Homo sapiens: one gene and its partners. The protein of the gene in region 1 interacts with the protein of each later gene in a biochemical or structural test. Each region holds a gene or a part of one and is shown in the gene's direction. Other genes may lie near its edges.

Region 1 (7,026 bases):
CTTCCTCCACACACCCCCTTGAGCCGGCATATTACCAGTTACTAGAGTAGGTACAGTGGAAGTGAGTTATGAAGCTGGGGTGTTAGCTTCCTGGATCCCTGAGAGAAAGTTCTAAACTCCTTTCTCCCTGATCAGACTCACATCCTAAACGTCTCCCTTTGCCTCGTTGTCTTTTAAAGCAAGAATGTGTAAGAAATTCATTTTGGGGTTGGAGGGATATTTTGATGTTTAGGGCTGCTTCACTAGACATCTTTTTCTTCTGATCTTGTTCTCTCTCCTCTCTTCATTTTCTCAACCACCCTTCCACCACTGAGCCTCCCAAAGGATGACAGCCCAGGTCCTGGCCAGAGTCAGTTCCTGTCCAGATGCCCCCATTCTTCAAAACCCCTTCCTTACCTTTTGGGAAGCCCTTCCTTACTCAAGTCTATCTCTCTTTCCTCCTGCTGCAGTGTGAGCCCTTGCACATCAGAACCCCCAAGCCTAGGTTTATTCCCGCCCAGTACTCTCTTCTCAGGGTCCTCCTCACTCCTCAGACTCTTTACCTTTCAGGTCCTCCAGCTCTGCGTGTGGGCTCATTGCTCTTGGGGCATCTGGGTGCAGCTGAATGGTACTGCAGGAAGGCCCCTGACTTGGTAGTGCTGGGTATGAGCGATAGAGAACCTGCCTCCCTCTTCTGTCCCAGATTTCAGCCTGGTTAGCAGGATCCTGCATTGTTTGGAGAAGGAAGCAGTTGGCTTTGGAGTGTTTCCGGTGCAATGGCCTCAGGCACCAATATAAACCCTCCCTGGGAAAGAGGTGAGGGGTATATGTGGAGAGTTGTCCCTCTTGCTCCCCTAGGGGAGATGAAAGCCTCTCCCTCTCCCACCAGGCCTTAGCTTCCCTGGCTGAAGAGCTCCATTTTCCTCCCTCCTTTCTACCCTCCTGACTCCAGGGGTGGTAGTGGTCCCTATTCTGGGTCTCCCTTGAGTCAGGCACTGCCTAGGGCCGAGACTCTGTCTCTCCAAGATAGGACAGATCTTGCTCCCACCCTACTCTAGGCTCAGCGGGGTAGTCATTCTCTGGGTTCATCCCAGGACAACTGTGTCATCCCCTTGGCAATCTCTGGACTGAGCCCCCTTCCTGGCTTTTCTGGCTGTCTGTCTGTCTTTCTGTCTGTCTGTCATTAGTGTGCGCTGTCTTGGCTTTTTAGAACCTCTCTGTCTCTCACCCTCTCAGTTCATCTCTTACTGCCGAACCTTTGTGACATTCTCTGCCCTGCTTTCTGCGTCTCTGTCACTTGTCTTATTTTTCTCTGCCTGTCTCCATTTACCCCCATCCAGGCCTCTTGGTATCCCAAAAGCTTCTTGGGAGCAAGAGTCTCTCTGGGCTTTCCCACTCACCCCCTGGCTCCCTCCCCTCTGTTTTGGCTATTTTTCCCCCTTCCTGGCCAGACCCAGTGTCCAGTTCAGCACCAAAAGTTTCCTCTCCACTTTCCTCCGACTTCCTCTTTCTTCTTCCCCCTCCACTAATTTGGGGAATGGGTTTTGGAGAGAATGTTTCTGGAAGAAAGGAACTTGATACCCTTTGTGGGCTAAGAGGGAGAAAGGAGGTATTTCAGAAGGAAGGAGGGAGGTTAGACTTCTGGCAGAACTTCCTCCTGACCAGGAGCCTAAGAACTGGAGAAAGATGTAAGGAGTGAGTCAAGAACTTGGAGCTTTTACTCTGGTGAGCATAAGCTGTGTGTGTGGCTGGGGTGGGGGGAGAAGGAGAGGAGGCTTAGAAATGCCTGGTGAGTGATATGGTGACCTCTGGAGGCCTTCTGGGGGTCTGGCTTTTATTTGTGGGGAAAGGAAAAGCTGGTGGGGGAGGTCACGGGTCAGGCTAATGTCCTGCTGCATCAATATTGACTCAGAATGGAAGCGGAGACCCTTCCCCTCCCCTGGCTGTCCAAGCCACCCTGTCTGTCTGTCTGTCCAGGCCGCAAAGCAGAGGCCCAGACTCAGGAATGACAAAAATGTGTCTGAGCCTCAGGAAAGAGCCACTGGGCAACACCCAAAATACAAAAAATTCAGTGAAAACCTCTCGGTTTGGGTTTGGGAGGCCCTTGCTGCCCCACCCCCATAAGGTCGAAAATTCAGATTCCTGCAGGCTCTGTCCCCGCGCCGCCCCCCCACCCCACCCCCCGCACCTTGAGCATCCTCCTCCCACTCTGTTCCCTTAGCTATATCATGTGGTTCCCTTTAGAGAACCCCCCTCTCACCTAGCTCAGAGGGGAGCCTATCTCTCCTTCTGCTGTGTCCACTCTTAAAAAGGGCCCCAAGAGTCCCTGTCATGCTTTTGCAGTCCCTGAGTCTCCTTGTCCTTTAAGAAGCACCTCTAAGGTCTTAGCTCTCTTCCTTGCTCTCGCTCCCTCAAGGGGGTATCAAAGGATGGGTTCCCCTCCTCTGGAGAAGACTCCTTCAGGGTTGGACTTCGCTGTCACCCTCTCTGGCCAGGCATTCTCACCCCACTTCCCCACCCCCAAGGTCCCAGAATGGGACACAGAATGACAGCCAAGGGTCAAGCAGGGCAGTGGGGTCTGTGTTGTGTCTGGACGCACACCCAACTCTACACCTCCTGCCCTGGCTCCAGCTTGGTGGCCCTGGGGACCGTGGCTGGGCTGGGTGCCTGGGTTTGGGGGGGTGGGGCAGGGTGTTGGCCAAGTTAGCATGGCAGTCACATTCATCTTCAGGCAAAGCCGAGAACAGACGGCCCCTGTGTCCTGGTGTTCTTCCTCCAAACTCGCTCTCTCTCCTTCCTCTCTAGATCTCTCCTTCTTCTTCTCCTGCCTGTCTTCCCCTTCTTCTGTCCCATTCTTGCTCCTCTCTGTCTCCCCTATGCCCTTCCCTCCTCTCTGAGGAGCCCTGAAGGCCACCCCTTAAAATCCTCTCCCCACTGCCAGGGCCAGAGAACGACAGCGTTCTCCCTGCAATTTCCCTTCCTTGTTTTTTGTTTTTGTTTTGTTTTGTTTTTGAGACACAGTCTCACTCCATCACCCAGACTGAAATGCAATGGCGTGATCTCTGCTCACTGCGACCTCCGCCTCCTGCTAATTTTTGTATTTTTAGTAGAGACAGGGTTTCACCATGTTGCCCAGGCTGGTCTCAAACTCTTGACCTCAAGTGATCCGCCCATCTCCGCCTCCACCTCCCAAAGTGCTGGTACTACAGACGGGAGCCACTGCGCCCATCTGGTTTCCTTTCTTTCTTTCTTTTTTTTTTCTTTTGAGATGGAATCTCGCTCTGTTGCCCAGGCTGGAGTGCAGTGGCGCGATCTCAGTTCACTGCAAGCTCCGCCTCCCCTGGTTCACGCCATTCTCCTGCCTCAGCCTCCTGAGTAGCTGGGACTACAGGCGCCTGCCACCACGCCCAGCTAATTTTTCATATTTTTAGTAGAGACGGGGTTTCACCGCGTTAGCCAGGATGGTCTCGATCTCCTGACATCATGATCTGCCTGCTTCGGCCTCCCAAAGTACTGGGATTACAGGCATGAGCCACCATGCCCGGCCTGGTTTCCTTTCTTAACCCGGCTGCATCCCATGACCTATGAGGAAACCACCTGCTCAGTTACCAGTCACCCTGTGCCTCAGCTCCCCCATGTGTGAGAGGGGGGCCGCAAGGGCACCCACCTCACAGGGTTATAGTATCTAAGTGAGTTAATAGTCACCGTATTTCCAATCAGTGGCTGGTGGTTAGCAAGGTGAAAAAGGTTAGCTCCCATCGGTCAGGGAGACCTCCGGGTTCTCTCATGCGGGCCAGGAGGCGGGGAAGGCCTTAGTTGCTTTTGACCTTAGGGCAATGTTGTTCTCTCATCTAAACTGCAGGCCACAAAGGTGGGTTTTCTGGGTGCTGGATTCAGACACAGAAGGCTCTGCTGAGGGGAGTGGGGTTGGCTTTCCCTCTAAGCAGATTATAAGGGTCCTACCCCGCTCCCAACTCAGCTCTCTCCCAGCTCTGAGTGAGGCTTCCCTTGGCTGTGTAGACTGTCCCAAAGTAGTTTATTTGTTTCTTTCTTCCCTCTCCCCCTGAAGGAAATCAAAGACAGGCCTCAGCCTTCTCGCTCCAGATTCCTGGGCCCTTCAACACCAGCCCTGACAGGAAGTTCTTTCACGTATCTCTCTGCAATCCTTGTGCTGGCCAGGCCCTCGGGAGATGTGGCCCCCTCCCCCGGTGCTGCTGTGGGATAGGGGCCTGGGCCCTCCTCTTCCTTTCACTTGTCCCATCCCCCATCCCCTCCCTGCAAGAGCACATCTGGTTTGTGAATCTCTCTCATTCCAGCTTTTGGAGTTTGCCAGCTGCTGTTTCCTCTGTGGAGTTCAGGCCAAAAATGGGGGTGGGGGACAGCGGGGGGGACTCAGTGAGGGCTAAAGGAGGGGGCACCATGGCTGGGATGTGGAATGGAGGGGAGGTTAGGTGACCACCCGGTGACCTCAGGCCGTGGCTGTGCGCTCTGCCCCTGGGAGGAGCAGGGCATGGACCAAGTCCCAGGTGGGTGGCACGGGGGTCTGTTTCTGGGCTCCAAACATCTCATCTGCCTCTGAGTCCCATTCCAGCCCCCCTCTTCCCCCTCAGCCGGCCACGGCTGGTCAGGGGAAGCGGACGGTTCTCCGGCATGCTAACTAGGCTGGCGGGCTGTGTTTCCCGGGAAGACCTCACAGCTGGCCCAGTGGGGCAATGAACTCAGCATTATCCACCTCCTCAAGGGGCCTTTATTCCAGGCTCAGGGTGGGGGCCAGGGGAGGGAGGCTGAAGGGGGAGCCTGGCTAGGCCATCCTTGATGTGTTTCCTGAACTCGGTCATTTTGGCCAGGGGCCTGAGTGCCGTCTCCCCTGCCAGCGGTGGGGGTTAGGAGGGAAGACATCTCAGTGAGGCTCCCATCAGACTCCCTCCCTCCTAAGAGCCCCCCCCCCCCGCCATTTTCCTTATACTTCTGTCTCTGCCCTGCATTTGCATTAGTTGGGTACAGCTGTCTTCTCAGGCGACTCTGGCTCCTGCAGGGCAGAGGGTCATCTCACCCTCCTTGGCACCCTGATGCCTAGTGCAGTGCCTGGCATAGAGCTGGCCTTCAGTGTGTGCCAGCAGAATAGAAATGTGATGGCACAGTCTGAGGAAAAGCCACGAAAGGCCAGGAGACTGGGAGCTCAGCCTTGGGTGGGGGAGAAGGGGTGGGTGACTGTTCCTCCTGTGGAGGATGTGGTGATAGAGGTTGGGAGGAGTGGGAATTCGGAGGACTGGTGTGGATTTCACTGGTTCAGAGCTTGGAGTCAGCTTAGCTGGTTTTGTCACTTGCCAGCTATTTGACCCTGGCCAAGTCACCTGGCTCAATTTCTTCATCTGTGAAATGGTGGTATTAGTTGTCCCTATTTGTCATACTGTGGAGGGAATTAAATATGATGATACATGGAAAAAACTGCTTTACCACAGTTCCTGGCACATACTGAGCCCACAATAAGAGTTAGTTGTCAGCCGGGTGCGGTGGCTCACGCCTGTAATCCCAGCACTTTGGGAGGCTGAGATGGATGTATCAGATGAGGTTGGGAGTTCGAGACCAGCCTGACCAACATGGAGAAACCCCGTCTCTACTAAAAATACAAAATTAGCCATGCGTGGTGGCGCATGCCTGTAATCCCAGCTACTCTGGAGGCTGAGGCAGAAGAATCACTTGAACCCGGGAGGCAGGGGTTGCAGTGAGCCAAGATCGTGCCATTGCACTCCAGCCTGGGCAACAAGAGCAAAACTCTGTCTCAAAAAAAAAAAAAAAACAACAGAGTTAGTTGTCACCATTCTTAATTCCTCCTTGGGGGATGAGGGAAGAGAATGGGGTAGGAGTGGAAGAAGCCTGATTGGGGTGGGAGGGTAGGGCCAAGAGGTCCTGAATATAGTAGCTAACTAGTTGGACTGGACTGAAACCAGTTCCTAGAGTTCATTTCAGCCATCCCCCTGCCTCTGCTCCCCAATTCTGATATCTTGAAAATCTTTAGGTGCTTCTTAACTCTAAGGATGTCTACTGAAAGTCTCCCTGAGGTCTAACCAAGGGAGGCTGTGTCTTTAGAGAATGGAGAGGACAAGGCAGGTGGATCACCTGAGGTCAGGAGTTTGAGACCAGCATGGCCAACATGGTGAAACCCCGTCTCTACTAAAAATACAAAAACTAGCTGGACATGGTGATGCATGTCTGTAGTTCCAGCCACTGGGGAGGCCGAGGCAGGAGAATCGCCTGGGCCCAGGAGGTGGAGGTTGCGGTGAGCTGAGATTGTGCCACTGCACTCCAGCCTGGGGGACAGAGTGAGACCTTGTCTCAAAAAAAAAAAAAATAGGGAATGGAAATGGAAGCAAGGCTCTCTACCCTGCCCATTCCTGCCCAGCCTTGCCCTCCTGTGCCTCTGCTAATACCATCTCCAACTACTACTGTGTGTGCCAAGGGCATCCCTCCCCACTGCTCCCATCTGGGGGCCTAGTGATTAGGGGTTGGGAAGGATGGGGTGATGGGTCAGGGGACCAGGAGTGTCCCAGAAGGCAGGGAAGCAGAGAGGTTAGATAAGACCAGCTCGGGGCCTCTAGTAGTAGGAGTTAGAGGAAGACAAAGAGAAAACATGTCAAGGCCTAAATGCACCCCCCTTCACCATCACTCTGTCATCAAAGCCAGGGGGTGCTGGTGTCTGATGAGAGTAACCAAGAATAGCAAAGGCTTTGACCCTGACTCCCAGGAACAGGCAGCCTAGAGGACTTGGAGGGGTGCAGTAAAATGTGCTTCTGGATCCTCCCCACCCCCACCGCAGATACACAGTGTCTAGGAACTACCCAAAGCCACCCCCTGACACCCCCAGGCACATAGACCATGGCTGAGGGTCTGGGCCAGATGGAGACTGATGCTAGGGAAGGAAGAGCAGTACTAGGGGACTTTGGGTTCACAGAGTTGGCCTCCATCCTTCATTTATATCCCCTTTTCTTTCCTTGCCCTAGCCCCTAAGACTTGCAGCCCCAAGCAGTTTGCCTGCAGAGATCAAAT
Region 2 (7,087 bases), about 48 Mb from region 1:
AACTGAGTTACCCAGGACCACACAGCTAAGTTAGAAGTAGGGCTCAGGTGTCCTGGCAACTAACTGGTCCAGTTATTTTTTCTCTCAAGCTCGTTTTCCCTCTCCTAAAGAATAGGAGGCTCTGTCGTGGTGAAAGGCGATTTTAGTAATACTTTCCTTTTTATCTGTGATTATAATGAATGCGGCATCTCTCCCATTAAGGATCATTCCTCCACCCACATTCTTAATACATCTGCTGCATGCATCCTTCAGAGACCTCCCTCTGGGATCATCCCTTCTCACTCCAAAAAGCTCAACTTCTCCCCTGTCATTTGTACCTCCCACTCAGCATTTTTAGAAGCAATATTTCATTCAAACTTATTCAAGTTTATTTCCACCTAAAGAAATATTCCTTTCACCCTGGCATCTCCGTCAGGTACTGCTCTGTTGTTTTTCTCCCCTTCAGACAAACTGCCAAACTGGCTCTAGTTCCTCACATTCCCCATCACCCTCAGCAAGCTTCTGCCCCACACCGGCACTGAAACAGCTGAATCCCAATGTCCTTGTCCTTAAACCCAGCAGAAAAAAAAAATCAATCAATTATTTGATTTCACAGCGGCACTTGACATGGGTAGCCAGGAATTTATCAATGACAACCTTTACAGATCATCTTTGTAATTTATCATGAGGCATCAAATGAATGCTATTAACATTAATCCCTCCTATTTTAAGTCATTAATCCAAGTAAATGCTCACTTATTTCTAGCGTCTTAGAAACCATTTAAATTATGTTACATTATGAATCAATACATTATAAAATTATACCATCATTTGTAATAATTTTTTAAAATGTTGTGTGCTATTAACATTGATGCCTTGGTATAAAGTCATGATCATTCTGGTCTAGTAGCAATCTTCTATTGACTATTCTCTTACTAAAGCGGTCCCTTCCGTGGGACTCAGAGACCTCACACTCTCCTGCCTGTGTTTCTTCCTCTCTAATTGGCCCTTCTTGCTCCACTTGGGTGCTCCTGCCCATTGCCTAGACAAGAGCATTCCCTGTAACTCTGTCTTGGGCTCTTTTTCTCTTTTCATCAACATCTTCTACGTGGGTATTATCATCCATTTCCATGGCATCAGCTTGCCCAATAAACTGATAAATCCATAGTCTCTATAAGTACAGCAGATCTCATCAAGCTAGTGGCATTCAGACTGCTTTAACTTTAACCAAAAATAAGGGATTTTGTACATGTTCAATAAGCAGTTCCCACTGTGACACTGTAATCACATTTTCACAATTGTGACCTAGGACACTTAGAGTAAAGGATACAGATGATTGAGACAGAAATAGTGACAAAGAAAAATAAGGTTAGGATATAGATTTTAATGCTGTAACAGACCTCAAAATACAATGGCTTAACTAAGAGAATGCATTTCTCTGTCACATAAAGGTCCCAACTGGCGTAGACTTTTGATGACTCAAGGGCTCAGGCTGTGCCTGGTTTGTGGTTCTGCCTTCCTTAACACATGGCTTCCATCTGATGAGCTACAGCAGTACCTATCACTAGTCAGCATGTCCACATTCCAGCCTGGGCAAGGAAGAAAGGGGAAGCGCAGAACTGTACCCTTCCTTTTTTAAGTCATGAACTGAAAGTTGCATGTATCACTTCCACTTGCCCTCCAGTCACCAGAACTTAGTCATATGCCATACCCAGCTTCAAGGGAGTGGGTTAAAAACATAGAAGTCAACTAGGCAGTCTGCACCCAGCAAAGGATCGGGAGTTCTATTATTAAAGCAGAATTGGAGAAGTGGTAACAGGAAACAACCACCAGCCTCTGCTGCATGTATATGAAACAGATGTTTCCCAAATCACTATTCTCACTTATTCTGTCTGATACACTGTATTTTTTATTATATTCTCTTTCATTTTTTAAAATCCTGGTCATGACTCACAGGGCATGATGTTACAACCCACTTAGATGCTAACACCATAATCTGAAAAATATTACCTATATTATGTCTAATATTGGCCACTTGAAGTATGGCTAGCCTAAATTGATCTATGTTGTAAGTATAAAATTCACACCAGCTTGTGAAAACAAATTATGAAAAAAAAGTCTTTAAGATATCATTAACAATTTTATATTGGCTAAATGTTGAAATGATCATATTTTGGATATATTGGATTAAATAAAATACACTATTAAAATTAATTTAATGTTTCTCTTTATGTGGTTACTAGAAAATTTAAAATTTAAAATTACACAGGGCGATCACATTCTATTTCTAGTAGACCACACTGCTGTAAGCTCAAGATTCAAATGTCAAACTCCTGTGAATATTAATACGTGAATATCCCACAAGCACTTACTCCATCTTCCCAACCCTCAGCCCTTCTGTCCTCCTTCTGCTCCCACCAATCTGTGTTTCTTCTGTTTCACTCACCCAGCTAAAGGCAACACAATTCACTCCGTGACGAGCCAGGAAAATGGAAAGACACATTTTCCTTTATTCCTCACATTGATATATTCACTGAGCACTATAATTACCTCTTAAATATGATATAAATCTGCAAGCTCTTTTCAATACCACCACAAATTCCATAGTTCAAAATGCCATCAGCTTTCACCTATATTATTACACCAGCTCCCATCTGGTCTTCCTGCATCCTGGATCACCTCTTTCTAGCTGCCCTTTCAAATTTCAATAAGAGCAAGCTTTCCAGGAAACAAACCTGAAGTCAATCCACTGAGTACTCCTCTGAATACCTTAATATTGTTGACAAATTCCTTTCTGATTTGAAGTATCAGAAAGGAATATTTCCTCCATACCAAATAGTTTTCATTTCATGCATGTGCCGTGATTCTTCTCCCTCCTTTGCATCTGTCATTCGTTATGCTTAGAAAGCTCTTTTCATCTCTTTGTTCTTCGAGACAACCACTACTCATACTTCAGAGCTTAATTTACATTTTGCTTTCCCTCAAAATTTTTTTAAAAGGTTCCAGGTCTGGGTTATGTGCTCTCTTATGTGCTCCCAGAGCATCCTGAACTTCTGCAATAATATGTTTGGCTACTGTATTTTATACAGTAGTTTTATATTGTATTTTATACTGTATTTTATACAGTAGGTGTTATATTGTATTTTATACAGTAGTTGTTTTTCTGTCTGTTTTTGCCCCAACAAGAATGTAAAATCTTTAAGTGCCTGTTTTCATACTTATTTGACCACCCTATCTCTAGAATCTTGCATGATGTCTAGCCCTAGTAGGATCAAAAAATACTTACAAAGCAACTGAATAGCTACATGAATAGATGGATGAATAAATGCATGGGTGGATGGATGGATTAATGAAATCATTTATATGACTTAAAGTTTGCAGAGGAGTATCATATTTGGAAGGCAGTAAGGAAGTCTGTGTAGTCGATGGTAAAGGCAATTGGGAAGTTTGTTAGGCACAATAGGTCAAAATTTGTTTTTGAAGTCCTGTTACTTCACGTTTCTTTGTTTCACTTTCTTAAAACAGGAAACTCTTTTCTATGATCATTCTTCCAGGGCCTGGCTCTTCATCTGCAACCCAGTAATATCCCTAATGTCAAAAAGCTACTGGTTTAATTCGTGCCATTTTCAAAGAGGACTACTGAATTCTGATGTGGCTTCAAACATTTAGGTTAGGCATATCTAATGGAGAACTTGCAGCCACACTGACTTGTAGTGAAATATCTATTTTGAGCCTGCCCAGTGTTGCTTAAATTGTAGTTTTCCTTGCCAGCTATTCATACAAGAGATGTGAGAAGCACCATAAAAGGCGTTGTGAGGAGTTGTGGGGGAGTGAGGGAGAGAAGAGGTTGAAAAGCTTATTAGCTGCTGTACGGTAAAAGTGAGCTCTTACGGGAATGGGAATGTAGTTTTAGCCCTCCAGGGATTCTATTTAGCCCGCCAGGAATTAACCTTGACTATAAATAGGCCATCAATGACCTTTCCAGAGAATGTTCAGAGACCTCAACTTTGTTTAGAGATCTTGTGTGGGTGGAACTTCCTGTTTGCACACAGAGCAGCATAAAGCCCAGTTGCTTTGGGAAGTGTTTGGGACCAGATGGATTGTAGGGAGTAGGGTACAATACAGTCTGTTCTCCTCCAGCTCCTTCTTTCTGCAACATGGGGAAGAACAAACTCCTTCATCCAAGTCTGGTTCTTCTCCTCTTGGTCCTCCTGCCCACAGACGCCTCAGTCTCTGGAAAACCGTGAGTTCCACACAGAGAGCGTGAAGCATGAACCTAGAGTCCTTCATTTATTGCAGATTTTTCTTTATATCATTCCTTTTTCTTTCCTATGATACTGTCATCTTCTTATCTCTAAGATTCCTTCCAGATTTTACAAATCTAGTTTACTCATTACTTGCTTACTTTTAATCATTCTTCCCCAACTCTCTGAAGCTCTAATATGCAAAGCCTTCCTAAGGGGTGTCAGAAATTTTTAGCTTTTTAAAAGAATAAATTTTAGATATTCACATTCATATTGATCTACTTGAGACCATGCTATTTATCTTTTCTTATTTCCTCTTTCTCAAGGGTCCATTTTCTATTTTATAAAAATAAAGACAATTCTCTCCCACAACCAAACATGGAACAATGCCCTGGAGTATAAAAATCTATAGAGTGCCAAATAAAGGAACAATTTGAAATACTGGTGTTGATATTGAAAAAGCAAGGGACTCTAATGTCAGAAGAGAAATCCTTTTGCAGATGAGGTGGTGATGAATTCTTTGTTTCAACACAACTGAAGGAGGAACTGAAGGAAATACCAGCTGATGAGTGATGAGAAGGGATTCTTGATAATAGAGTACTAGGTGATTTTTGGCATGTAATGCAGAAGTTGCAAGAAGTGGTAACAATGATGCAATTGTTTTACCTGCCATTTATTTACTTTTATGTGAGCCATTCTTCTTAGCACTTATAGCTACACAAAACAAAAATAGTAACAGAATTAATGTTGTTTAATTCTTGCAATCCATGGATGCATAAATTCACTGGGGGAAAAAACAGCTCATCATTCTCATTAAAGATGTGCTTCAAAAGTATTTTAATTTTATATCTAATATGTATGAATCATACTTTGTATTTATTTTGTTTTGATCAGTTATATACAAGTATTTTTGAACATAGCTCAGTCAGAAGGAAATGTTTAATATTTATAAATTTATGGTTACATTCTATTTAAAAGAGGAGTTAAAGTTAAATTTACCTACCCACATATGTTACATATATATGTATTTATGTATATGTATTCATATATGTATATATGTGAACATAAGTATACATACGTATATGTATAGATGCTTGACAATAAAGAAGTAAGAATAATTCACAACATTTTTTGAAATATAAAAATTTAGGATAAATTTCTGTATGGTAATTGGCATGGAAATTCAAATTCAAAAAGGAAAAAAGAAGAGAAAGATATTAAATATCAGACCATTAAAAGAATTTTTTAATGTACTTTTAAATAGTGATAGTAGGTATCTTATACTACAGTGTTTATTATTCATGAGAAAATTGTAAAAGTAATCTAAGTATTAATTTAAAATATCATCAAAAATAATATCTTTTGCTATTACTTAAAATCATGATAAAAATATGTTTACTTGAAAATATGTAAGGAGTGCACAGAGTCCAAAAATTATTTTAGGAGTTCTGTGAGCAAAAATGTATAAAAACTACAGGGTTGATCTTAAATTACATGTCAGGGTACTGAGAAAGTTTCTGTACTGCACATGAGTTACCAAGGTCTAAAGTCAATCACCAGAGGACCATTTTTGGATGGAGCCATTGTCTAATCATGAGCTGAAAGGCAAATATTTAAAATGCAAACATCCATGGTTAGGTAACACTCTTAAGACCTTATTAGCTGCTTACCACAACTGAGACTGTGAAGTAATGGCTCACTTTCTTTGAGGCTCAGATTCCATATCTGTGGAGTGGAAGCGAGTGCTTACCATACAATTTTCACAGGGCTGCTGAATGTGTGTATGTATGTATGTGTGTATATATATTTTAATGAAAATTCTATAATTTGATTAGTTTTTGTAATGTCCGCATGACTGAGAGCTTGCTTACTTTTTACAGCAACTTGAAGGTAAAAATAGATTTTACAACATGAACAAATGTAACTACATATTTTTATTTGAATTCAGATGTTCACAAATTGTTCCTTAAAGTGAAGCATGCCTACAAGTTTTAATCTGTTTAAGACCTACCTCAAGTAAAATGTTCACTGCCATGGCATGTGAGGGAAAAGGGAAATAATTCTTATGCATGGCCTTCAACGGCCAAATTTCATGCTCATCAGTACATCTTCTCTTGGTGTAGAACTGATGATGATAATTATGATGATGGAAAAAAGTGCTGTTGATAGCAATGCCTCTCTTCCTTCACTTTCCTCTAACTGAACCGTCTCATTCCCAGGCAGTATATGGTTCTGGTCCCCTCCCTGCTCCACACTGAGACCACTGAGAAGGGCTGTGTCCTTCTGAGCTACCTGAATGAGACAGTGACTGTAAGTGCTTCCTTGGAGTCTGTCAGGGGAAACAGGAGCCTCTTCACTGACCTGGAGGCGGAGAATGACGTACTCCACTGTGTCGCCTTCGCTGTGAGTGTGGCTGTTTGACTTAATATACTTGGTTCTTTTAGTCAGGGTCATAGGGATCTAGTATTCTGTCAGATGAGGCTTTGGGAGGTTGGTAAGAACTGCAGGAAGGAATCCAAATGTAGCAAACTAAGTATAGAAATTAAGGAGCAATGCATGACTCTCCAGCCATGGGAGACAAATATTTACAGGCAAACTAAAAGTCAGCTTAATAATCACATAGAAACCCTATTAGCCAGAAAGGAAAAAAAAAAAAAGAAAATGTGACTTCTTAAAATTAAGATGGAAAAAATATTAATAAAGCAAACTAGACCAAGGCTCAACATGAGCCACCCGTGGTGGACTGACAGGAACACATCACTCCACACTACTTCTAAGAGTAAAAATTGTAGAAATTACCCTGAGCAAAGGTGTAATATCTCTTCAGAGTTGTCCACATGTGAGATGCTTACAGCCTAGTGTCA
Region 3 (7,026 bases), on another chromosome or scaffold:
CATGAAGATATATAGGGAGGAGACTGTCTCAAAATACCACTAGAAACTAATCACCACTAGAAACTTCCACATAATTTTGATGGTCCCATAAGGATCTTTCTATCTATGGAAGAAATATGAAAATCCTCTAAGTATGCATTTCTTTTGTAGGCAGCATTGCCCACTCTTTGTGTTTGTATAGCTGTGTACTCAGGAACCTGATGTTTAATCAGATCCGAGAACATGTGTACCATTCCCCCTTTGTGTTCTGTCAGGGACAAGAATTGTGGATATTTCCAGTGTTTGGGCCCATATTATAAGGCAGTCGAACCTGTTCCTGACTGATCTGCTTACTGCAAGGGAAGTAATGAAATCTTGGGGAAATTATGACAACAGAGTGAAGAGGCAAAAGAAGCTTGACATGTATTAGGTTGGTGCAAAAGTACAATTACTTTCTTTTGTTCTTCTTTTTTTTGAGACGCGTCTCACTCTGTCACCAGGGTGGAGTGCAGTGGCACGATCTTGTCTCACTGCAACCTCTGCCTCCCAGGTTCAAGCAATTCACCTGCCTCAGCCTCCTGTGTAGCTGGGATTACAGGCATTTGCCACCATGCCCGGGTAATTTTTGTATTTTTAGTAGAGACAGGGTTTCACCACGTTGACCAGGCTGGTCTTAAACTCCTGACCTCAAGTGATCCACCTGCCTTGGCCTCCCAAAGTTTTGGGATTACAGGCGTGAGCCACCCCGCCCAGCCATAAGTACCACTACTTTCAATGGCAGAACCGCAATTACTTTTGCACCAACCTAATAGCATGGAATCTCTCCTGTTGTCTGCTTTCTCAACTGTAAGAAGGGACTTGGGCTAGATGACTTCAGAGGTCTCTTCCATCTCTAAGAGTTCATTCTTTGGCTCATTTTATGATTATTTATGTTATTTTATGTTTCCTACCATTTGGAACTTCGTTTTGTTTTTATTTCCTGCCATTTTAGACTAATAGTATGAGCTGAAGAATTACAAAGGCAGTGGCTACAATCTCAAATGTCTTCAAGGGTTGAACAGTTTACCTTTTATCTTTAGTGGAATCTTGTTTTTTTCTACAGGAGTCCAGCTTGATTATAGTATCTAAGGCTCTCACTTTTTCTTTATCAAATTGAAAGTCTCTTAATGCGTCTCAAAACTCAGTTACTCTAAAAAGTGTGACAAGACTGTTTAATATGTTTTTTTGCACTGCAACAGGTAAGAGATTGGCCATAAAGACAACCTTACTGTACATTGAGTACTATGATTAGGAATCTTGTTTTTAGGTCCGAGTCCTCAATGGGTTTCAGCAAGTTACTCCTGATATGCCATCTTTAAAGAGGGAAGAGAATATTTATTTTCTTACTTTCTTTAAAGGCCTTGGAAAAGATGATGGGTTGATGGCAGTGTTTTAATAATGAATACTAAAGGAGGTATTGTCTTTCCGGTAGTGTGCTAGTTACTATATATACATATATATACTGTATATATACTATACATACATATATATACTGTATATATACTATACATACATATATATACTGTATATATACTATACATACATATATACTGTATATATACTGTATATATACTATACATACATATATATACTGTATATATACTATACATACATACATACTCATTTAATCTTCACAGCAACCCTGAGTAATAAATATTTAATCCACATTATTAGATTGGGAAATTGCCTTGGGGAGGTTAAGGACTTGCCCAGTTTCTAATGCCAGTAAATTTCAAAGGATTTTTAACCCAGGTGTGTTAATTCTGCTATACCATATACTACTTTCCACTGCAGTAGCCATGTTTAAGAAGTTGACTGCCAACCTTTCCCCTGACCTTTATTTTATTATATCATGCCTTATTCCCAGAAGCATTTGAGGCATCTTAAATGACTAATACAACCTACAGTGGAAAGTTTTTATTGCTTGCTCTTGATAGAGCTGAGGGCATATCAAGGTGAGTACCTAAAATCAAGATGCCCCATTAAGTTCTATCATTTAAGCCTTGTAGACCTGTCATAGGCTTTGGGTTTCATGCTAACTGAAACTGTTGCTAGCAGTTTTCTGATCTATTCCTTTCTTCACATATCAAATAGATGTGAGGCTAAATGCTATATCCTTGCCCTATTTTCTCTTGCTTACACAAAGTCTCGCCTTCATGGAGTTTACAATCCAATAGAGATATGATGTTCACATATGAAAAATTAAATCTCACTGCAAAGGTGCAGATAGTTAAGGAAAATGATGAGGAGGTAGTTAGTGGGAGGGCAAAGGAAGTGCGGAAAGGAGCATGGTAATCTGACCCTGTGTTGGGAAAGTTCAAGAATGCAGACACTGCTGAGAACCATTAAAATGGTCAATTAAAAGAACGTGGAACTTGTGGGTCTTCTGGAATGGACAGGCTTTAGGCTAGGGCCAGAGTCAGGGATGAGTATGGCCTAAGCAATAATAGAGAGAAGAAAATAAGCAGAGCATATTCTGAGGTTAGTGAGTAAACCAGCCTGGACAGAAGGAAAGTTTCCTTTAGGAGATTCAAGAGAGAAGAGGTAGCTGAGTAGTAACCTGAGTAGGTGGAGATCAGATTATGGAGTCTTTAGTGTTAGTATGGAAACTTAATCTTTCTCTAAAGTTCTATCTGGATTCTTTCTACTTCCTAGCCATTGATTAGGACTCAGTTCAACAGTTAGCTCCTCCAGGAAGCAGGCTTTACCTAGGATAGATGTTCTCTTATTGTCTATATTATACATCATTTACAGATTGCCTGTAATGTATTCCCATGTATTGCCAAGCTAAGCACTGTATCTTGTCCCCTTGTAAAAAGGAAGAGATGAAATGGTTATTATCCCCATTTCAGAAATGAGGAAACCTTGACTTCTGCATTATACAACTCTTTAAGTGAAGATTTCGATCCAGGTCTGTGTGACTTAAAATTCCAAGCCCTGAATCATTATAAATAACTTTTTTTTTCTATATGCTTTCTCACTTATGTCTCCTCCTTCTACTTCACTTTGAGCTCTTCTGAGTCAAAGAACATATATTTTATTTCTTATTTTCTTTCATTTAACTATTATTTTAGGTTCAGGGGTACATGTATAGGTTTGTTATATAGGTAAACAGTGTCATGTGGGTTTGTTCTACAGATTTTTTCGTCACCCAGGTATTAAGCCTAGTACCCATTAGTTATTTTTCCTGATTCTTTCCTCTCAACCTCCACCCTAAGTAGGCCCCAGTGTCTGTTCTCCTCTGTGTGTCTATGTGTTATTATTTAGCTCCCACTTATAAGTGAGAACATGTGGTATTTGGTTTTCTCTTCCTTTGTTAGTTTGCTAAGGATAATGGCCTCCAGCTGCATCCACGTTCCTGCGAATGACATGATCTTGTTCTTTTTCATGGCTGCAAAGTATTCCATGGTGTATATGCACCACATTTTCTTTGTCCAGTCTACCATTGATGGGCATTTAGGTTGATTCGATCTCTTTGCTGTTATGGATAGTGCTGCAGTGAACACATGCATGCATGTGTCTTTAATGTTTTTTTAATGCTTTGTCTAGTGCATGACACACAGTGGTCAGTAAGTGTTCATTAAATGACTGAGCAAACTGATAGATATCATAATAATATAATGGAATGTTTTTATATTTATTTATTTATGACATAGGGTCTTACTTTGTCACCGAGGCTGGAGTGCAGTGGCACGATCTTGGCTCACTGCAGCCTTGACCTCCTGAGTACAAGTGATCCTCTTGTCTCAGCCCCTCAAGTAGCTGGGACTACAGGTGTGTGTCACCACACCTGATTAATGTTTTTATTAGCCATATTTTTCATAGAGACGGGGTTTCACCATGTTGCCCAGGCTGGTCTCCAACTCCTGAGCTCAAGTTATTCACCCACCTCGGCCTCCTAAAGTGCTGGGATTACAGGCGTGAGCCACCACACCCAATGTACTTATTTATTTTTGAGACAGGGTCTTGCTCTGTCCCCCAGTCTGGAGTACAGTGGCACTATGACAGTTCACTGCAGCCTCGACCTCTTGGGCTCAGGTGGTCCTCCTGCCTCAGCTTCCTGAGTAGCTGGGACTACAGACATGCACCACCACACTTGACTAATTTTTTTTTTTTTTAATTATTTGTAGAGACGAGATCTCACTATGTTGCCCAGTCATGCCTTGGACTCCTGGGCTCAAGTGATCCTCCACCTCAGCCTCCCACAGTGCTGCGATTCCAGGCATGAGCCACTGTGCCTGCCATAATGGGATGTTTTAAATAAAGAGAAGCAGTAACATGATCTGTTTCAGCTTTCAAAAAGTGGTAAACATGGTTCTTCACTAAATACAATTTGAGAAAGAGAGAATGAGGATGGACACATTGTATTATGATGGATAGGAAACTGGCTAAGATATCAGAAACAAGGAGAAGGAGTAGATGGAACACCTCTTGGAGAGAGTCAGGTAAATGGAACAGTTCTCTAAAGATTGCTTCAAGGATCAGTATTAAGATCTTTTCAAAACAATACTAAAGAAAAACTGTACAGTAAAATATCTAGGAATTACTTTGGGGAAATAGAAAGGCAAGCTGATAGATGTTCAACTGCAGAAACATTTTGCGAAGCCATGTGACTAGCCAGAAAAGTGGTCAATGATTACATGTGATAAGTACACAATTATTTATTGAGGGAAAAATAGCCAAACTATACTTAGATGATAGGGTCAGAACTGCTGGTTTCAGAAGACTGAAAAGTAAAGTAAAACTATTTTTTAAAATTTATTTAGCATTTATTATGTGCCTACACTATGATTAGGAATCATGGACACTAGAATAAAGAATAAGAAATGATCCCCATTTTTAAGAATTTTGCAGTTCAAGCCAGGCATTGTGGCTCTTGCCTGTAATCCGAGCACTTTGGGAGATCAAGGAGGAGGACTGCTTGAGGCCAGAAGTTCAAGACCAGCCTGGGCAACATAGCAAGACTCCCATCTCTGCCAACAAAACAAAGCAAAACAAAACAAAACATTAGCTGTGTTTGGTGGTGCATGCTTGTAGTCCTAGCTACTTGGGAGGCTGAAGTGGAAGAATTGCTTGAGCCCAGGAGTTCGAGGTTGTTGTAGTCCTAGCTACTTGGGAGGCTGAGGCAGGAGAATTGCTTGAACCTAGGAGGTGAAGGTTGCAGTGACCTGAGATCGTACCACTGCATTCCAGCCTGGGCGATACAGCGAGACTCAGTCTCAAAAAAGAAAAAGTGCCAGAATGCTTGAGTTCAAATCCTTACTCTATCACTCACTCACTGTGTGACCTTGTGCAAGTCACCTCACTTCTATCTGCCCCAGTTTCCTCAGCTATAATATGAGAGTATTATTAGAATCTACTTATAGAGTTGTGAGGATTCAATGATTTTTTTTTTTTTTGAGACGGAGTTTTGTTCTTGTTGCCCAGGCTGGAGTGCAGTGGCGCAGTCTCAGCACACTGCAACCTCTGCCTCCCGGGTTCAAGCGATTCTCCCGCCTCAGCCTCCCAAGTAGCTGGGATTACAGGCGCCCGCTACCACACCTGGCTAATTTTTCTGTATTTTTAGTAGAGATGGGGTTTCACCATGTTGGCCAGGCTGGTTTCTAACTCCTGATCTCAGGTGATCCACCCATCTCGGCCTCCCAAAGTGTTGGGATTACAGGTATAAGCCACCACGCCTGTCCGATTTTTGTTTTATAAATAATTTGTAGTGACGATTCTGTACTGTCTTAAGCACTTTACCACAAAACAACTCATTTAATTCATTGAAGTGCTTTAAGGATACTGCTATGTGGGGAGTAGACTTTATGGGGCAAGAATTGAGTCATCTAGGAAGGGTAGGGTAAGCTGTGTCAGTAATTTCAGGGATATGGGGCTTCTGTTTCTCTTTTTCCCTCCTTTTATGCCTTAGTTTATAAAAAAACCCTATTACTGCAATAGTCCTTCCCCCTCCTCCAAAAAAAAAAAAAACCTGTTAGAAGCTCCCAGAAACATTTTTAACCTTGTGAGATTTCCCTAGAACTGGAAATGTTAGAAATTCCTGACCTAGGTGTAATTTTCAATTCCAATAATAGTCAATTGACACCAGTTGGGCTTTGTGTATGTACTAGGTACTATATTGGCACAGGAGGTACAAAAATGAATATAAGCTAATTACATTGTCTTCTAGGAACGAATATTGCAATAGGGTAATGAGACAATTAAACAAGTAATTTCATGTTTTCAGGCAAAGGGAAGAAGACATCCAAAGTCACGGAGATAAGCAGTAGCTGTGGGCGGGGATGATAGGGTGAAAAGCGATAGCAAATATTAAATTTTGTTTACTGTATAATGCAAAGTAGAGAATGTCCAAAGATGGCTAGAAAGGTAGATTATGGTGATTTTGAGTTTAAACTTCATCTTCTATGTTTTTTTTTTTACTTTGATTTTATCTTGGGGATATACTTAGAATTTATTTAAAAATCATTTTATCATATTTGCATAGGAAATAGTAGAAAAAGTCTACTGTAAGGAGGATACTATAACAAATTTTTTTTTTGCTTAATTAACACAAAATTGGTGCTTTGAGAAACTTTAGCCTTTTATTATTGACTAAGTTGGTGCAGAAGTAATTGTGGTTTTTGCCATTTTTTTTTTTTTTTTTGAGACGGAGTCTCGCTCTGTTGCCCAGGCTGGAGTGCAGTGGCACAATCTCGGCTCACTGCAAGCTCCGCCTCCCAGGAGATCACGCCATTCTCCTGCCTCAGCCTCCCAAGTAGCTGGGACTACAGGCGCCTGCCACTATGCCTGGCTAATTTTTTGTATTTTTAGTAGAGACATGGTTTCACCATGTTAGTCAGGATGGTTGTGATCTTCTGACTTCATGATCCACCTGCCTCGGCCTCCCAAAGTGCTAGGAGTACAGGTGTGAGCCACCGCACCTGGCCGGTTTTTGCCATTTTTTATAGCAAAAACTGCAATTACTTTTGCACCAACCTAATAAGTAGGAGTCATTAATAAATGTTTAAA
Region 4 (7,026 bases), on another chromosome or scaffold:
CCAGCCTGGATGGCAGAGAGAGACCCTTTCTCAACAACAACAACAACAGTTTACTTTTGCATTTCTGAAAGATAAAACTCTTAAAAAAAAAACCCACCACAATATCATTATTGTACCTACAAAAATTTAATAATAATTCTTTAATATCATTAAATATCCTGCCAAAAAAAGGCTGGATTGAGCCTGGGCACAGTGGCTCACGCCTGTAATCCCAGCATTTTGAAAGGCTAAGGTGGGTGGATTGCTTGAGGCCAGGAGTTCAGAAACAGCCTGGTTAACATGGTGAAACCCTGTCTCTACAAAAAACACAAACATTGGCTGGGCATGGTGGCTTATGCCTGTAATCCCAGCACTTTGGGAGGCCGAGGCAGGTGGATCACGTGAGGTCAGGAGTTCGAGATCAGCCTGGCCAACATGGTGAAACCTTGTCTCTACTAAAAATACAAAATTAGCTGGGCGTGGTTACAAACGCCTGTAATCCCAGCTACTCGGGAGGTTGAGGCAGGAGAATCACTTGAACCCGGGAGACAGAGGTTGTGGTGAGCTGAGATAGAGCCATTGTACTCCAGCCTGGGCAATAAGAGCGAGACTCCTTCTCAAAAAAAAAAAAAAGAAGGAAAAAAAAAATGTAGAGACAGTGTCTCACCATGTTGCCCAGGCTGGTCTTGAACTCCTGTTCTCAAACAATCCTCCTACCTTGGCTTCCCAAAGCACTAGGCTTACAGGTGTGAGCAACCATGTCTGGCCTGATCTATCTGTTAAAGTTATGTTTGATCAAGTTCCCCTTCTATTTTTTTCGTTGTTGTTGTTTGCAGTTTTGCTTTTGTTTTTTAACTGGAGAATCATGTTGCTTGTCCTGAGTTTTCTATGGTTTGGATTTTTCAGACTCTCTCCTGTGGTCATATTTACCATGCTCCTCTTCCCCTGGATTTCCTGTAAATTGGTAGTTAGTTCTAGAGCCTTGATCAGATTCAGATTTGAGCATTTTTGTGTTTTGCTTTTGCAAGAATATTTCATAGGTGGTATTAAATACTTCTACTAGGCCGGGCGCGGTGGCTCACGCCTGTAATCCCAGCACTTTGGGAGGCCGAGGCGGGTGGATCATGAGGTCAGGAGATCGAGACCATACTGGCTAACAAGGTGAAACCCCGTCTCTACTAAAAATACAAAAAATTAGCCGGGCGCGGTGGCGGGCGCCTGTAGTCCCAGCTACTCGGGAGGCTGAGGCAGGAGAATGGCGTGAACCCGGGAAGCGGAGCTTGCAGTGAGCCGAGATTGCGCCACTGCAGTCCGCAGTCCGGCCCGGGCGACAGAGCGAGACTCCGTCTCAAAAAAAAAAAAAAAAATACTTCTACTAAAGGCAAAGTCTGATTGCCTCTCTTTTTTGTGATGTTAGTGGCCTTTGGTGGTCATTGTCTCAACTCCTTTTAAAAGGAACAGCCCCTCCTGCACTCCAGCTGATTATTTTTGGGATTGGGGTGAGGAAAAATATAGTCTCAATGCAGCCAGTTAAAGGGAAACTGAAAACTAGATATTGGTGTAAAATAGCCCAATTTCTAAACGTTAACAACAAATTCTATTTTTTAAAAAGCACTGTGCAGGCCACACACAATCTATCTGAGGCTTGCATCAGTCTGCAGGTTGTAGGTTGGAAGTTTGCAAGACTAGGGGGTGTGAGTCAGTGACCAAATAGAGGCCTAGTTGCTCACTTGCCCCTGGGATGGTCACTGTGGGGGCTGCAACTCTGAACTACCTATGAAGCTTCTAGGAGTAGGGGGATAGTACTGCTGAAGAGCTGGGGCGGGTTTGCTGGGCAGTGACCTCAGCAAGGATGTTGGAGTGGCAAGAGGATTCTCAAGGATCATGCACTGGTGGAGACATTGTGAATTGAGGATAGAGGTGGGGGCCAGCCCAGGAAAGGGGCCAAGTCACTCTTTTACAACTGTGTTGCTATGACCATGAGGGCTGCAGAGAAGGTTTGTGCTCCTGCAGAAATGAGGCTAGAATTGAGCAAAAATTATATTCTCCTTCCTATTGTAGGATATTCATAGAGCTATGGATTGAATGCATAAATGCATGAATTCATGAATTAAATGAATGATGAATGAATAAACTTTACTACCTGTATTGAATTCATACTCTGCTCCAGGCCTTATCGTAAATGCTGGAAATGTATACTATGGGGCAAAGATGTTCTTACCTCCTGGCCTTCACAGCCTGGTGAGGAGACAAAGAAAGAAACAAGTGGTTATGATCAGTGCGATGAGCTCTCTGGGGCTGGGGAAGTACAGGAGGGGCCCCTGACCCTGCCTGTGAGAGTGGTGGGGGAGAGGGCAATGGGTCAGTTTTAAGAAGGGACCTGTATACTGATGTCTGAAGGAGAGGTAGGTGATAGCCAGGTGAAAATCGAGAGTAAGGGAGGTGGGCTGGGAGAGGACAAGGGGGCATGTCCCAAGCAAAGAGAGAGAAGGGGAGTGGCTGGAGGTAAGGCTGAGAGGCAGACAGGGGTTCATGACAGCACATAAAACCTGGGGAGGAATTTGGACTTTATCCTGAGGGCAGTGACAAAACAATTAAGAGGATTCCGTTGGAAAATTACTTGATTAGTTTAGCATCTCAGAAGAATCATTTGGGCTGTACTGTGCAGCTGAGATTGGAGGAGACCAGATAGGAAGAGAAAGACCAGTTATGATGTTTTTGCAATGATGCAGGTTAAAAAAAAAAAAGCTAGTAGCCTGGGCTATGTTAGTTATGTGGGGTGGAGAGAAGGGGAAAGCTTTAAGTCAATCACTGATTCCTGAGCAAGTGAGTACACCTGGCTTCACCACTAAGGCATTTGTGGATGAACGAATGAAGGAAGGAAGGAATGATACGTGAACATTTAATGTATTTTATATGTAAGTGTCGCATGAATCGATGCAGGAGTGAAGGTGTGCGTTCTGGAATAAATGCATGTGTGTGAAAGCAAAGGCCGGGGTGGGCTGCGCTTGGAGGGAGATGTGCCAAGCTCCAGAAGGGCCTCCCAGATGGCCAAGGGGGGAGAAACTGCCCTTCCAGGACAGATCGGAAGGATGAAGCTCTTTGAAGCAGGAAGGTACAGGCTGACAGGGATGGCAGATGGATTGGTGTGTGTGACTCAGTCAGGAGATGGTGAACTGGTCCCCAGATTCCAGAAGTGTCCAGCCAGCCCTCATGAAGCAGGCTGTGGCTGTGGAGGGCATGGAGGCCCTAGGGTGCTGTTCCTGGAAGGTTTTAGCAGGAGAGTCCTGAGGCAATGGAGGGTCTCTAGGGAACAGCAGGTATTCCCTGAGCCTCAGCTAAGTTTCAGGTGCCTATTGAAAACCTTATTCCATAGAGTGTGAGTTAGGGGGAAGTGGGGGTGAGGAGAGGCGGTGATGGCTGCCTAGAAGGTGGATGGGCAAGAGCCCCTCCTCTTTGGGTGTCTGTGGGCCCACGTCATTTGGAAGCTGAGGATGGTGAAGCACCCTGCCTGAATAACTCTCGTCAGGTGTGCAGCCACCTTGGCGTAACCACGCCCACTCCCAGCCCTGCTGTGTCTGGTTGCCCAGCAGCAGGGTCTTGGGACTGCCTGTCCCTTAGTACTGCCTCTTGGACCAGTCAGGATTCCTGGTTTCCCTGGTAACGGGAAGCACGTCAGCAGTCTGGGCGCTCCCAGCCGGTCCTGGTGCTGCGGTTGCCGAGGAGACGCTGCAGCCTAGCTGGGCCCTGGCAGGTGAGGGGTGGGGGGTGGTGCTGGGAAGCCCCAAGCCCAGCCTCAAGCTTGCTGGGGCTCAGGACCTCAAAGCCCACCCTTGGGTTCAAACTGCTGTGCAGGTCCTGGACAGGGGCGGGATCCCTGAAGGCCTTGAAACCACACCCTATTTATGCTGACAGCTATAGGCTCTGCAGGGCCCCAGGCAGCTGGGGTATTCCTTAGGGGCTGAGTCTCCTGGTATCCCTAAGACTGGGCTTGGCTTAGGCACTGAGGTAACCACTGGAGGGTGGGATGGAGATTCAGGATTGGGGGAGGGGAGCCAGGGCGAGGAAGAAGAGGTGTGAGCAGAAGGGGCTGGGGTCTCATGAACCTCCCTTTCTCCTCCCTTCCCCACCCCCCAAGGAGATTCCCTAGCATGGTGGTCCTGGCCCCTCCCTAGCAAGCTCCAAGCGGGGGAGGATCTTGCCTGGCAGACGCTCTGCCCTGGTGAGAAGGGGGCGGGATGAGCTTTTCTCTGCAGCCCAGCACCAGGCTGTGAGCCCAGCTGGCTGGGCTGGAGGGGCTGTGAGGAGGGAGGGTGGAGGCAGGAGGGGCCGGGAATGAGCGCCATGTTCTCCCAGGACTTTTTCCTGGCCATTATCCTGCAGGACAGCAGCGCAGGTGAGGGGCAGCATGAGGTTGGGCCTCATGTGGGGTGGGGCTGACAGGGAGAGAAGAGTTAGAGGACGCATGAGCGGGTTACAGGGTTGGAGTGGTGTGGCTCTGCCGGCAGACAAGGGTGTATGACACAGATGCGAGGTATGTGTGTATGTGCATGACATGTTTGCTTGCATCTGTGTGCAGCAAGGGTCAGGAAGTGAGCGTCTGTGGTGTCTGCACACATTTGGCAGGGTTTGACGTGTGCCGTGTGTCTGAGTGTGGGTCCGCCTGTGTGTGTGGTACCCACACGTGTGTTGGGGCCATTGTGGTGTGGTATCTGCACACCTGTGTGGCAGGGGCTCGTATGTTTAGCTGCATGCACACACACCTCTGTGGTGTCTGCATAAGTGTATGGCTAAAGTTTGTGTGTGTGTGCCCCTGCACATACATGTGCACCTGTGTGTGATACCTGCCATCTGTGCTGGCATTTTCTGTGTTGCATACCCTGGTGTTTGTGGCTGCACAGGTGTGTGGTAGGGCTTGTATGTGTTGTGTGTCTGTGTATACATGTACGTGTGCAGGAGCTAGAAAGTGTTCACCTTCGTGTTAACTGAGATAATAGATATGTATGAAAGGAGGTTAATTGGGGTCACCCAACATTCATTGCTCCCTTCCTTCTTCCCTCCCTGCCTTCCTCCTTTCCACAGTGTGGCCACATTAGCCACCAACAGGGCCCAGGAGGAGACCTGAGCCATGTCCCCTACTGGTGGCCCCACATGTGGTGACTCCAGACTATAGGCTCTAGGCAGAAGCAGGAACTGTGTTGTGGTATAGCTCTTCCACCACCCCTTCTCAACCATGGGGTCTCAGAGGGGACCGGGCATAGGCACCAGCTGTCTGCTCTTTGGGTAGGCTGACCCTCACCAAGCCTCCCACCTGGCAGATTCCTTCTGGAACCCCAACGCCTTCGAGACGGATTCCGACCTGCCGGCTGGATGGATGAGGGTCCAGGACACCTCAGGGACCTATTACTGGCACATCCCAACAGGGACCACCCAGTGGGAACCCCCCGGCCGGGCCTCCCCCTCACAGGGGAGCAGCCCCCAAGAGGAGTCCCAGGTGAGGCTCACAGGCCTGTTGATTTTGGGCCAGGGGTGGAGGGAGTGTGTGCTGCTGGAGTAGGATAGGACACTCACTCACTACTCCCATCCCTCCTCCTAGCTCACCTGGACAGGTTTTGCTCATGGAGAAGGCTTTGAGGATGGAGAATTTTGGAAGGTGGGTAAGGGGACCTGCTTTACCACGGGATAGCTGGAGGAGGGGCATCATTTTGATACTGATTCCTCAATCCCCTTCCCAAGGATGAACCCAGTGATGAGGCCCCAATGGAGCTGGGACTGAAGGAACCTGAGGAGGGGACGTTGACCTTCCCAGCTCAGAGCCTCAGGTGAGCTGCCAGATGCAGTGAGCTGGCAGTGGGATGGATCTGTCTGGAAGGGGCCTTGGGACAGCTCCATTTATGGGAGCCCTGTGCCAAGTATTACCATCTGCCTTCAGCCCAGAGCCGTTGCCCCAAGAGGAGGAGAAGCTTCCCCCACGGAATACCAACCCAGGGATCAAGGTTTGTTCAAGACTGACACCCATTCTGAGTCTGGGGCCCTCTTATTTGTCAGACAGCCCCTAATGTTGTGCTCTGAGGGGTCTCAGCGCAGTTCCCCAGGTCCTGAGTTAGGAGTTCTTCCAGTCTCAGCACAGAGCCCTGTGTCTGAGCTGGAGGCACTTCAGTTTTTAAATCAACCAGCCCAACAGCCAGGTTGGGGGCCCTTGTAGTCTTAGTTCAGGTGCTTTTTTGTACTAGCTGGGGTCTCATCTGACATCTCCCTCACCCTAACCACATCCCCCTCTCCCTAACCACATCCTGTTTGGGGAGCTTCTCCGTCTTAGTTCAGAACACCCTGCCTCCTGCCACACTCTGTAGTCAGGAACTCTCCAGTTTTGACTCAGATCCTCTACCTCCTGCCCCTCTTCTGTGTCTGGCAGTGTTTCGCCGTGCGCTCCCTAGGCTGGGTAGAGATGACCGAGGAGGAGCTGGCCCCTGGACGCAGCAGTGTGGCAGTCAACAATTGCATCCGTCAGCTCTCTTACCACAAAAACAACCTGCATGACCCCATGTCTGGGGGCTGGGGGGAAGTAAGGACCTGAGCCGGGGGTAGGGGGTGGTACTGTGAGAGTGTGAAGGGAATTATGAGAGATGGGAGGTCTGACCTGCCCACAAGCAGGCTGGGGAAGGGGGATATTGGCCCATCCTAAGTGGCAGCCCTGTGGGATGGATGAGCGACCCCAGGCCAGGACCTTGGGAGATAGTCGCCTAACAACGGTGGAGTCAATGTGAGAGATGACACGTGACCTCCACTAGAGTGAGGCCTGCAGGGCGGGCGGTCTGACACCAAAGCAGGGGCCCCAGAGCTGTGGCTAACATCCCCTGAGCTGCAGGGGTCAGAGATCAGCCACCATCCTGGCTGGAGTCCCACTGAGTGCCTGCTTCTGGTCCTGCAGGGAAAGGATCTGCTACTGCAGCTGGAGGATGAGACACTAAAGCTAGTGGAGCCACAGAGCCAGGCACTGCTGCACGCCCAACCCATCATCAGCATCCGCGTGTGGGGCGTCGGGCG

What was found.
Region 2: the proteins of LRP1 (region 1) and A2M are reported together in a solved structure, tested with the Homo sapiens proteins (one study listed by BioGRID).
Region 3: the proteins of LRP1 (region 1) and SYNJ2BP form a complex in vitro, tested with the Homo sapiens proteins (one study listed by BioGRID).
Region 4: the proteins of LRP1 (region 1) and APBB1 form a complex in vitro, tested with the Homo sapiens proteins (2 studies listed by BioGRID and IntAct, with this or other methods).

The regions. Positions count from the first base shown.
Region 1 is NC_000012.12:57,131,479-57,138,504, forward strand, and holds part of LRP1 (prolow-density lipoprotein receptor-related protein 1 preproprotein), read left to right. Parts: intron 1-6,980; coding exon 6,981-7,026. UniProt on the Homo sapiens protein: Endocytic receptor involved in endocytosis and in phagocytosis of apoptotic cells. Required for early embryonic development. Involved in cellular lipid homeostasis.
Region 2 is NC_000012.12:9,112,899-9,119,985, reverse strand, and holds the start of A2M (alpha-2-macroglobulin isoform a precursor), read left to right. Parts: upstream 1-4,066; 5' UTR 4,067-4,136; coding exon 4,137-4,222; intron 4,223-6,442; coding exon 6,443-6,626; intron 6,627-7,087. UniProt on the Homo sapiens protein: Is able to inhibit all four classes of proteinases by a unique 'trapping' mechanism. This protein has a peptide stretch, called the 'bait region' which contains specific cleavage sites for different proteinases.
Region 3 is NC_000014.9:70,407,065-70,414,090, reverse strand, and holds part of SYNJ2BP (synaptojanin-2-binding protein), read left to right. Parts: intron 1-7,026. UniProt on the Homo sapiens protein: Regulates endocytosis of activin type 2 receptor kinases through the Ral/RALBP1-dependent pathway and may be involved in suppression of activin-induced signal transduction.
Region 4 is NC_000011.10:6,402,094-6,409,119, reverse strand, and holds part of APBB1 (amyloid beta precursor protein binding family B member 1), read left to right. Parts: intron 1-3,456; exon of another isoform or gene 3,457-3,987; intron 3,988-4,186; exon of another isoform or gene 4,187-4,314; coding exon of another isoform or gene 4,315-4,375; intron 4,376-4,428; exon of another isoform or gene 4,429-4,497; coding exon of another isoform or gene 4,498-4,513; intron 4,514-5,297; coding exon 5,298-5,473; intron 5,474-5,575; coding exon 5,576-5,632; intron 5,633-5,715; coding exon 5,716-5,801; intron 5,802-5,911; coding exon 5,912-5,975; intron 5,976-6,394; coding exon 6,395-6,544; intron 6,545-6,910; coding exon 6,911-7,026. UniProt on the Homo sapiens protein: Transcription coregulator that can have both coactivator and corepressor functions. Adapter protein that forms a transcriptionally active complex with the gamma-secretase-derived amyloid precursor protein (APP) intracellular domain.